2 linked regions of the Homo sapiens genome follow. The protein of the gene in region 1 interacts with the protein of each later gene in a biochemical or structural test. Each region holds a gene or a part of one and is shown in the gene's direction. Other genes may lie near its edges.

Region 1 (3,877 bases):
TCGCTGTTGTCATTTAATGTTTGAACACCAGCCGGGGAGGCCCCCAAGGCCTTCAGATCGGGTCCAAGTCTCAGGGGTGGGCCCTTGACCAGCCACTGCTTCCCACAGGACAACTCAAACTTATACATGGTCATGGAGTACGTGCCCGGCGGGGAGATGTTCTCACACCTACGGCGGATCGGAAGGTTCAGGTAAGCGGGCCACCCCCCATCACATCAGGCTGTCAGGGTGTCCACAGGTGGCAGTGCACGACCAAGCCCCCTGGGAATGCAGAGGAGTCCAGCATACTTCAACATGCAGGTGGTCTCCCAGACCCTGTGGGTTTCTGTTTCCCCTCTGCTGAGGAATATGTGATATTTCAACCACCACAAAACAAAACAGAGCAAACAGGGCAACTTAGGTGTCCAAACTGAAGTTGCTGCCAGGCACGGTGGTTCTCACCAGTAATCCCAGCACTTTGGGAGGCCAAGGTGGGCAGATCACCTGAGGTCAGGAGTTTGAGACCAGCCTGGCCAACATGGCAAAACCCTGTCTCCACTAAAAATACAAAACTGAGCTGGGCATGGTGGTGGGCACCTGTAATCCCAGCTACTTGGGAGGCTGAGGCAGGAGAATCACTTGAACCCAGGAGACAGAGGTTGCAGTGAGCCAAGATCACACCACTGTACTCCAGCCTGGGTGAGAGAGTGACATGCCGTCTCAAAAAAAAAAATTGAAGTTGTTGATTTTGTGCATTTTTTGAGCCCCAAAAGGTGGCATGCATCTGTAGTCCCACTAGTCCTGAGGCTGAGGTGAGAAGATCATTTGAGCTCAAGAATTTGAGACCAGCCTGGGCTGCATAGTGAGGTTTTGTCTCTTTTAAAAAAAAAAAATTGGCTGGGCGCAGTGGCTCGTGCCTGTAATCCTAGAACTTTGGGAGGCCGAGGCGGGCGGATCACGAGGTCAGGAGATCAAGACCATCCTGGTTAACATGGTGAAACCCCGTCTCTACTAAAAAAATACAAAAAAATTAGCCGGGTGTGATGGCGGGCGCCTATAGTCCCAGCTACTCGGGAGGCTGAGGCAGAATGGCGTGAACCCGGGAGGCGGAGTTTGCAGTGAGCCGAGATCGCGCCACTGCACTTCCAGCCTGGGTGACAGAGCGAGACTCCGTCTCAAAAAAATAAAATAAAAATTATACTATTATTTTATTTTATATAGGTGGACAGTTTTATATGTGTAGATTTTAATATATATTTTTATACATAAAATAAATCTATATACAGAAATTTGTAAGTTTAAGATACAGGCTGGGTACTGTGGCTCATGCCCTATAATCCCACTTGGGGAGGCCAAGGTGGGCAGATTGCTAGAGCCCAGGAATTTGAGACCAGCCTTACATAGCAAGACCCCATCTCTACAAAAAAATACAAAAAAAAAAAAAAAAAGTCAGGTGTGGTGGCACATTCCTGTAGTCCCAGCTCCTGGGGAGGCTGAGGTGGGAAGATCACCTGAGTCTGGGAGGTCAAGACTGCATGAGCCCACCTTCATCCCTAGGATGCAAGGCTGGTTCAACATATGCAAAAAAAAAAAAAGACTGCATAAGCCGTGATCACGCTGCTGCAGTCCAGACTGGGTTGTAACCCAGTCAGACCCTGCTGAAAGAAAAAAAAAATTTTTAACTTATAAATTTGTCTTATTAACTTATAAGTTTACATACGTAGTTTTATTTGATTTTATTTTTTGAGACAGAGTTTCACTCTTGTCACCCAGGCTGGAGTGCAGTGGCACGATCTCGGCTCCATGCAAACTCTGCCTCCCGGGTTCAAGTGATTCTCTTGTCTCAGCCTCCCAAGTAGCTGGGACTACAGGTGCATGCCCCCTTGCCTGGCTAATTTTTGTATTTTTAGTAGAGATGGGGTTTCACCATGTTGGCCAGGCTGGTCTCGAACTCCTGACCTCAGGTGATCCGCCCCCCCCGCCTTGGCCTCTCAAGATGCTGGGATTACAGGCATGGGCCACCGCGCTGGCCTTGTAGTTGTATTTTAGATAGATAACTATAGATTCACTTTACATACAACAAAATGCACAGTTCTTCAATGTTCCATGCTACAAGTTTTGACAGTTGTATATAGCTACCTAACCTCCACCCAAAACAGTATATGGAACTTTTCTATCACCTAAGAAAATTCCCTTGAATCCCTTTTTTTTTTTTTTTTTTTTCCAATAACATACAGAGGTGGAGGCCGGGTGCCATGGCTCACGCCTGTAATCCCAGCACTTTGGGAGGCCGAGGCGGGCGAATCACAAGGTCAGGAGTTCGAGACCAGCCTGACCAACATGGTGAAACCCCGTCTCTACTAAAAATATAAAAATTAGCCGGGCGTGGTGGTGCACACCTGTAATCCCAGCTACTCAGGAGGCTGAGGCAAGAGAATCACTTGTTTCCAGGAGGCAAAGGTTGCAGTGAGCCGAGATTATGCCATTGCACTCCAGCCTGGGCAAGAGAGCGAGACTGTCTTAAAAAAAATAAATTAATCAAAAAAAAATATATATATATATATACACACACACACACATATCTACATACATACAGAGGTGAGGTCTTGCCTATATTGCCCAGGCTGGTCTCGAACTCCTGGGCTCAAGCGATCTTCCCACCTCGACCCCCCAAAATGCTGGGATTACAGGGGTGAGCCACCGCACCGGGCCGAATCCCTCTCTTGACACGTCACCTCCCCACCAAAGGCAGTTGTCCTTTCTGACTTCAAACACCGTGCCTTTGTTTTGTCTGGGCGTGGACATGATATAAATGGAATCATTCATGTTCTTTTGTGTCTTCTTTTGCTTAACATAATCAGTTTGAAATGCAGCCACATTGTTGAGTGGATGCATGGGCTGTCCTGTTGGCGGTGGTGGTGGTGAGTGGAATTCCATTGTATGACTATAGCTCAGTCTGTGATTCCATTTTCCTGTGGATGGACCCACAGGCTGTTTCCCATGTCGGGCTATCTAAGAATCAGGTGCCTTGCGTTTCTGACGGCTGGACTGGAGGTGTCTTCCTCTGGGGTAGGCTCTGCAGGGCCACCTGCTGGACCATTTTGGGGCATGACCACTGACGTTCACCTCCCCATTTGTCCCCATCAGTGAGCCCCATGCCCGTTTCTACGCGGCCCAGATCGTCCTGACCTTTGAGTATCTGCACTCGCTGGATCTCATCTACAGGGACCTGAAGCCGGAGAATCTGCTCATTGACCAGCAGGGCTACATTCAGGTGCCCACCAGGCCGGGCGAGGGGCAGCCCTGGGGAAGCCGTGGCCTGGACCCTTCCTCCCTGCCAACTGCCTGTTCTTGTGCCCACAGGTGACAGACTTCGGTTTCGCCAAGCGCGTGAAGGGCCGCACTTGGACCTTGTGCGGCACCCCTGAGTACCTGGCCCCTGAGATTATCCTGAGCAAAGTAGGAGCCTCCCCAGCCCTCCCCTTCCCCTGAGGCCGGCTCTGCTCTCCTGCTCTCGCCTCCTCCTCACCCTGTGCCCCCCCATCTTGCTCCAGGGCTACAACAAGGCCGTGGACTGGTGGGCCCTGGGGGTTCTTATCTATGAAATGGCCGCTGGCTACCCGCCCTTCTTCGCAGACCAGCCCATCCAGATCTATGAGAAGATCGTCTCTGGGAAGGTGAGGTCCGGATGTGGGGACACAGCCCTGGAAGAAACAGACCGTTCCCTGCTCACCCATCCTATTCCCTGGGGAGCCCTGCTTGTTGTCAGAATAATCTAGAAGTTCCTTAAGTCAGGCCAGGTGGTGAAGCTGGACGCGCCGGCCACACTGAGGCCAACACCTCAAGCCCCCTTGCTGTCCAGCCCCAACCCCGCGGTTCCAGAATCCCATGGGCTTCC
Region 2 (3,877 bases), on another chromosome or scaffold:
TTTTAACACCTAAAGATTCTTCAAAAATATGTTAATTCTAAGAATACCATGTTACGGACAAAAATCTTAAAATATAGTCTTCAAAAAAATACTACATTCAAAATCTGTGAAATGTTGGTAAAGCAATTCTCAGAAAGTAACTTTATTGCTGTAAATGATTTTGCCGTCAAAAACAATAAAAATAAGTTACTAAATATTGGTTTAGAACTTTCATATAGAAGTGACCGAGACAAACAAAAGAAAATGAAAATAAGGTTATGTAAAGGTTTAAAAAGTTTGAAATTAGTGAAAGTATCTCACTGTTCATCCCAGGATACTTCAAACACTGATAAAGTGAAAGAAGCAGGGCTTCCAAGTCCTAGCCCTATCCCTCCATTTTGGGAGAAGGTATTAACCTTCTGTACCTCAGTTTTGTAAAATGGGATTCCAGCACACACCCAAAGTATTGTTGTAAGAGTCAAGTAAGAGAATCCTTTGAAAGCACTTTGTAACTGTAGTGCTCTGTTGAAATGGGTTTGTGTGTGTGTGTGCAATTTCACAGCTCAGATCAGCTTTTTTGTTCCTAAAATATTCTTAGCTGTCACAATGTTAGTAAATTATATCTAAACTCTGAGAAATGGCAGAGATTTTTCTGGGATATTAGAAAAAGAGTTGGAAACAAGCCAAGTGACTTTTTTTTTTTCTCCCGAGATGAAGTCTTGCTCTGTCACCCAGGCAGGAGTGCAATGGTGCAATCTCAGCTCACTGCAGCCTCCACCTCCTGGGTTCAAGCAATTCTCCTGCCTCAACCTCCCGAGTAGCTGGGATTACAGGTGCCCACCACCACGCCTGGCTAATTTTTGTATTAGTAGAGACATGATTTCACTATTTTGGCCAGGCTGGTCTCGAACTCTTGACCTTGTGATCCACCCTCCTCGGACTTCCAAAGTGCTGGGATTACAGGTATGAGCCATGGTGCCCAGCCCTCAAGTGACTTTTATTTGTGCTCCATCCATCTGTGATTTTGAGTATTTAAGTTTTACTAAAGAGAAGCATAAAAGCTGCATTCATAATTCAAATATATTTTAAAATATAAATTAAAATCTGTAAATAAAAATTAAAATATTTTCAGTTTTTAAAAATGTTTATAAGGAAACCTTTAACTTAAAATTAGAAGCAAGTCTGATCAAGAAGTCTCAAGCACAGGCTGAGTAGTAATATTTAAGACAACACTGCTTACTAAAGAAAAGAGTTCAAAGCAAACATAGGAGCAGAATCAAAAAATAAATCCTTTTGATTATAAAAAACAACAGAAGGACTTCTGTTTATGTCTATGTAGTTTGGCTGTGTGGAACAAAATGTTTACCCCCGTTGACTGGCAGACCAAATTTCCTTTTTGTTCTATTTATTTTTCTTTCAGATTTATGACCACTGCCACCAACAAGTTAGGAACAGGGCACACATAACTACAGTTCCTACCAGGCTTTGCTTGCCTGAGATCTTCAGGGAAACTACCCGACTTACCATGGACTCTTTCATAACATTACTTTGCTTAGATATAGTTACCCTACTCTTTAAAAAGGAAACTTCTCATTGATTCTGCCATAGTTCCTTTTCCCCTTTGTTACCAGATTACTGCTGCTTTTACTTTTTCAGCCTCCATTCACTGGAATCTGGCTTCTATGACTAGCATACCGCTCATATGTCTATAAAAAGGTACAAATTCCCTCCCACTTGGCAAATCTAGTATTTTCTTTCATTTAATTTTAACTCTATGGAGTATTTGACACTTTCGACTTCTCATTACTCTAAACTCTTCCTTGGCTTACTTCACCTGGTTTTCTGGCTACTTTTCAAATTTTTCCTTTGAACCTTCATCCATACCCATGTATTTCAGGCATTACTTTATATGCTGATACTTCTTAATTCTGTATATTCTGGCTTTGACCTTTCTGCCGAGTGCTATTTATTAAGCTCCAGTATATATTATTTTATTAATTCTACCTACAGTGAGGTAGAAGCTTATCCCCACTTTAGAGGAGGAGAAGGTAAATATCAGAAAATTCAAATATTTTGCCAAAGGTCACACACTTTATGAGATTAGTAGAACTGAAATTTGAACCCATATCTGGCACCAAAACCTGTAAACATGCTACTTCACTGATTCCAGTATGCAGCCATCTTCTGCTGTGCCTCTCAAACCAGAGCACATGGCAGTATGCTAGGGATGTGTAGCCTAAGGAGGTGAACGTGGAGTGCTTTCCTTGAATGTTCATTTTGCTAAAATATTTGAGAGAAATAAACCTTATTTTTAAGGTAAAATAAGAGTTTTAAAAGAAATTTATACCAGCAGTGGTTTTGCTGCACCCCCAGAGTCTCCATATTTGGTTTCCTCTTCTAGTGTGGCTATTTCAGTGGAAAAGTTAAGAGAAGCACACTCCTAAGCATGCTCACTAGGATGAATTTCCCTTATGCACATCAAACACAGCCTATCTTAAAGTTTGATAGGAAAAGATTGTAATCCAAAAAATTCATCACTATCCAAATTGCCATTTATTTCAAGATGAAGGTAAGTGGTAAACATTCTAAAAGAAAGTGTAGACAGCTCTTCTGTTAATTTGTGTTGCTACAGTAACAACCACGAATCTCAGTGTCTTAAAATTTCTTCCTCACTTCTGTTACATTTTGGCAGCTGCAGGTCAGTTGCTGTGGCTCTCCTTCATGTGCCCATCTGGGTCTAGGATCCTGGGCTAGATAGAGCAGCACGTCTTTGAGAAAAGGGCAATGCTTTTGAAAGCATTTGCTTGATTTTGGTGAACGTTACATCTACTCGTGATCTGTTAGCCACAGCACAGGCAAGGACAAGCCCAAAGTCAGTGGAGTGGGAATGAACTCTTCCTACAGGAAGTGGAGAGTGAAAAATTGTGAAAGTAATACAATCTATCACCTTTGCCTTTATGTAACTTTACATTGTAGGGGGATTTTAAAAGCAGATTCCCTAAAGGCAGAAGTAACAAAGGAAAAGGTTAAATGGATTTGACCATATAAAACTATAAACCCCCTATTTAGGAAAGTAAAAGATAAAGTAGCAAACATTTTAACAAATAATGTCAGAAGACTAATGAGTTGAGGGATATAAATAGGCAGATTCTTAGAAAATGGATAGGGTAAAAAATTTGAAAAATTCTAAAAAAATTAAAATGTATTTGATATGAATTAAAATATATCCATTCAACTATATACAACTAGCCATTAAGAGTAAATAAAGGTGTATTTTTATTAAGATGGGAAGATGTTCTCGGACAAAAGCAGGTTACCAAAGAGTATTTACATTACTATCAGGTTTTTTAAATTTATTATTACACAAGTAAAACATGTTCATTATAAGTAAATTAAGAAACATTACCTAAAAATTGAATTACTTCTAATTTCACCATCTAAAATGTTAACATTCTAAAGTCAGTTTTTTTACTCAAACCAGTACAAAGGTAAATATACATTTTTAATATATTTTTAAGTAATTTTAAACTTACAAAGGAGTTTTAAAAATACAGAGTTCCGGATACCCTTCATCCAGCTTTCTCTAATCTTAGTATATTACATAACCAGGGTACATTTATCAAAAATAAAAGTACATTGGTATAATACCATTAACTGAATTATACATTTTATTTCCCCAGTTTTTTTACTTACATAATCCAGTTTGGGTACCATATCGCATTTAATTATAGTCTCCTTCAGTCTGTGAAAGTTTGTTTCCTTGTCTTTGATGGCCTTGTAACTTTTGAAGAGTAGTGATCTGTTTTCTTTTAGAATATCCCTCAGTTTGCATTTGTCCAGTGTTTTCTATGGATAGATTGAGATAATAGGTTTTGGGGAGGAATTCCACAGAGGTATA

Evidence for each region. Proteins that work in one complex are often made in the same cells at the same time.
Region 2: the proteins of PRKACA (region 1) and CREB1 form a complex in vitro, tested with the Homo sapiens proteins (2 studies listed by BioGRID, with this or other methods).

What each region holds. Positions count from the first base shown.
Region 1 is NC_000019.10:14,097,140-14,101,016, reverse strand, and holds part of PRKACA (cAMP-dependent protein kinase catalytic subunit alpha), read left to right. Parts: intron 1-108; coding exon 109-191; intron 192-3,126; coding exon 3,127-3,253; intron 3,254-3,342; coding exon 3,343-3,438; intron 3,439-3,533; coding exon 3,534-3,656; intron 3,657-3,877.
Region 2 is NC_000002.12:207,578,122-207,581,998, forward strand, and holds part of CREB1 (cyclic AMP-responsive element-binding protein 1), read left to right. Parts: intron 1-1,399; coding exon of another isoform or gene 1,400-1,445; exon of another isoform or gene 1,446-3,700; coding exon of another isoform or gene 3,701-3,825; exon of another isoform or gene 3,826-3,877.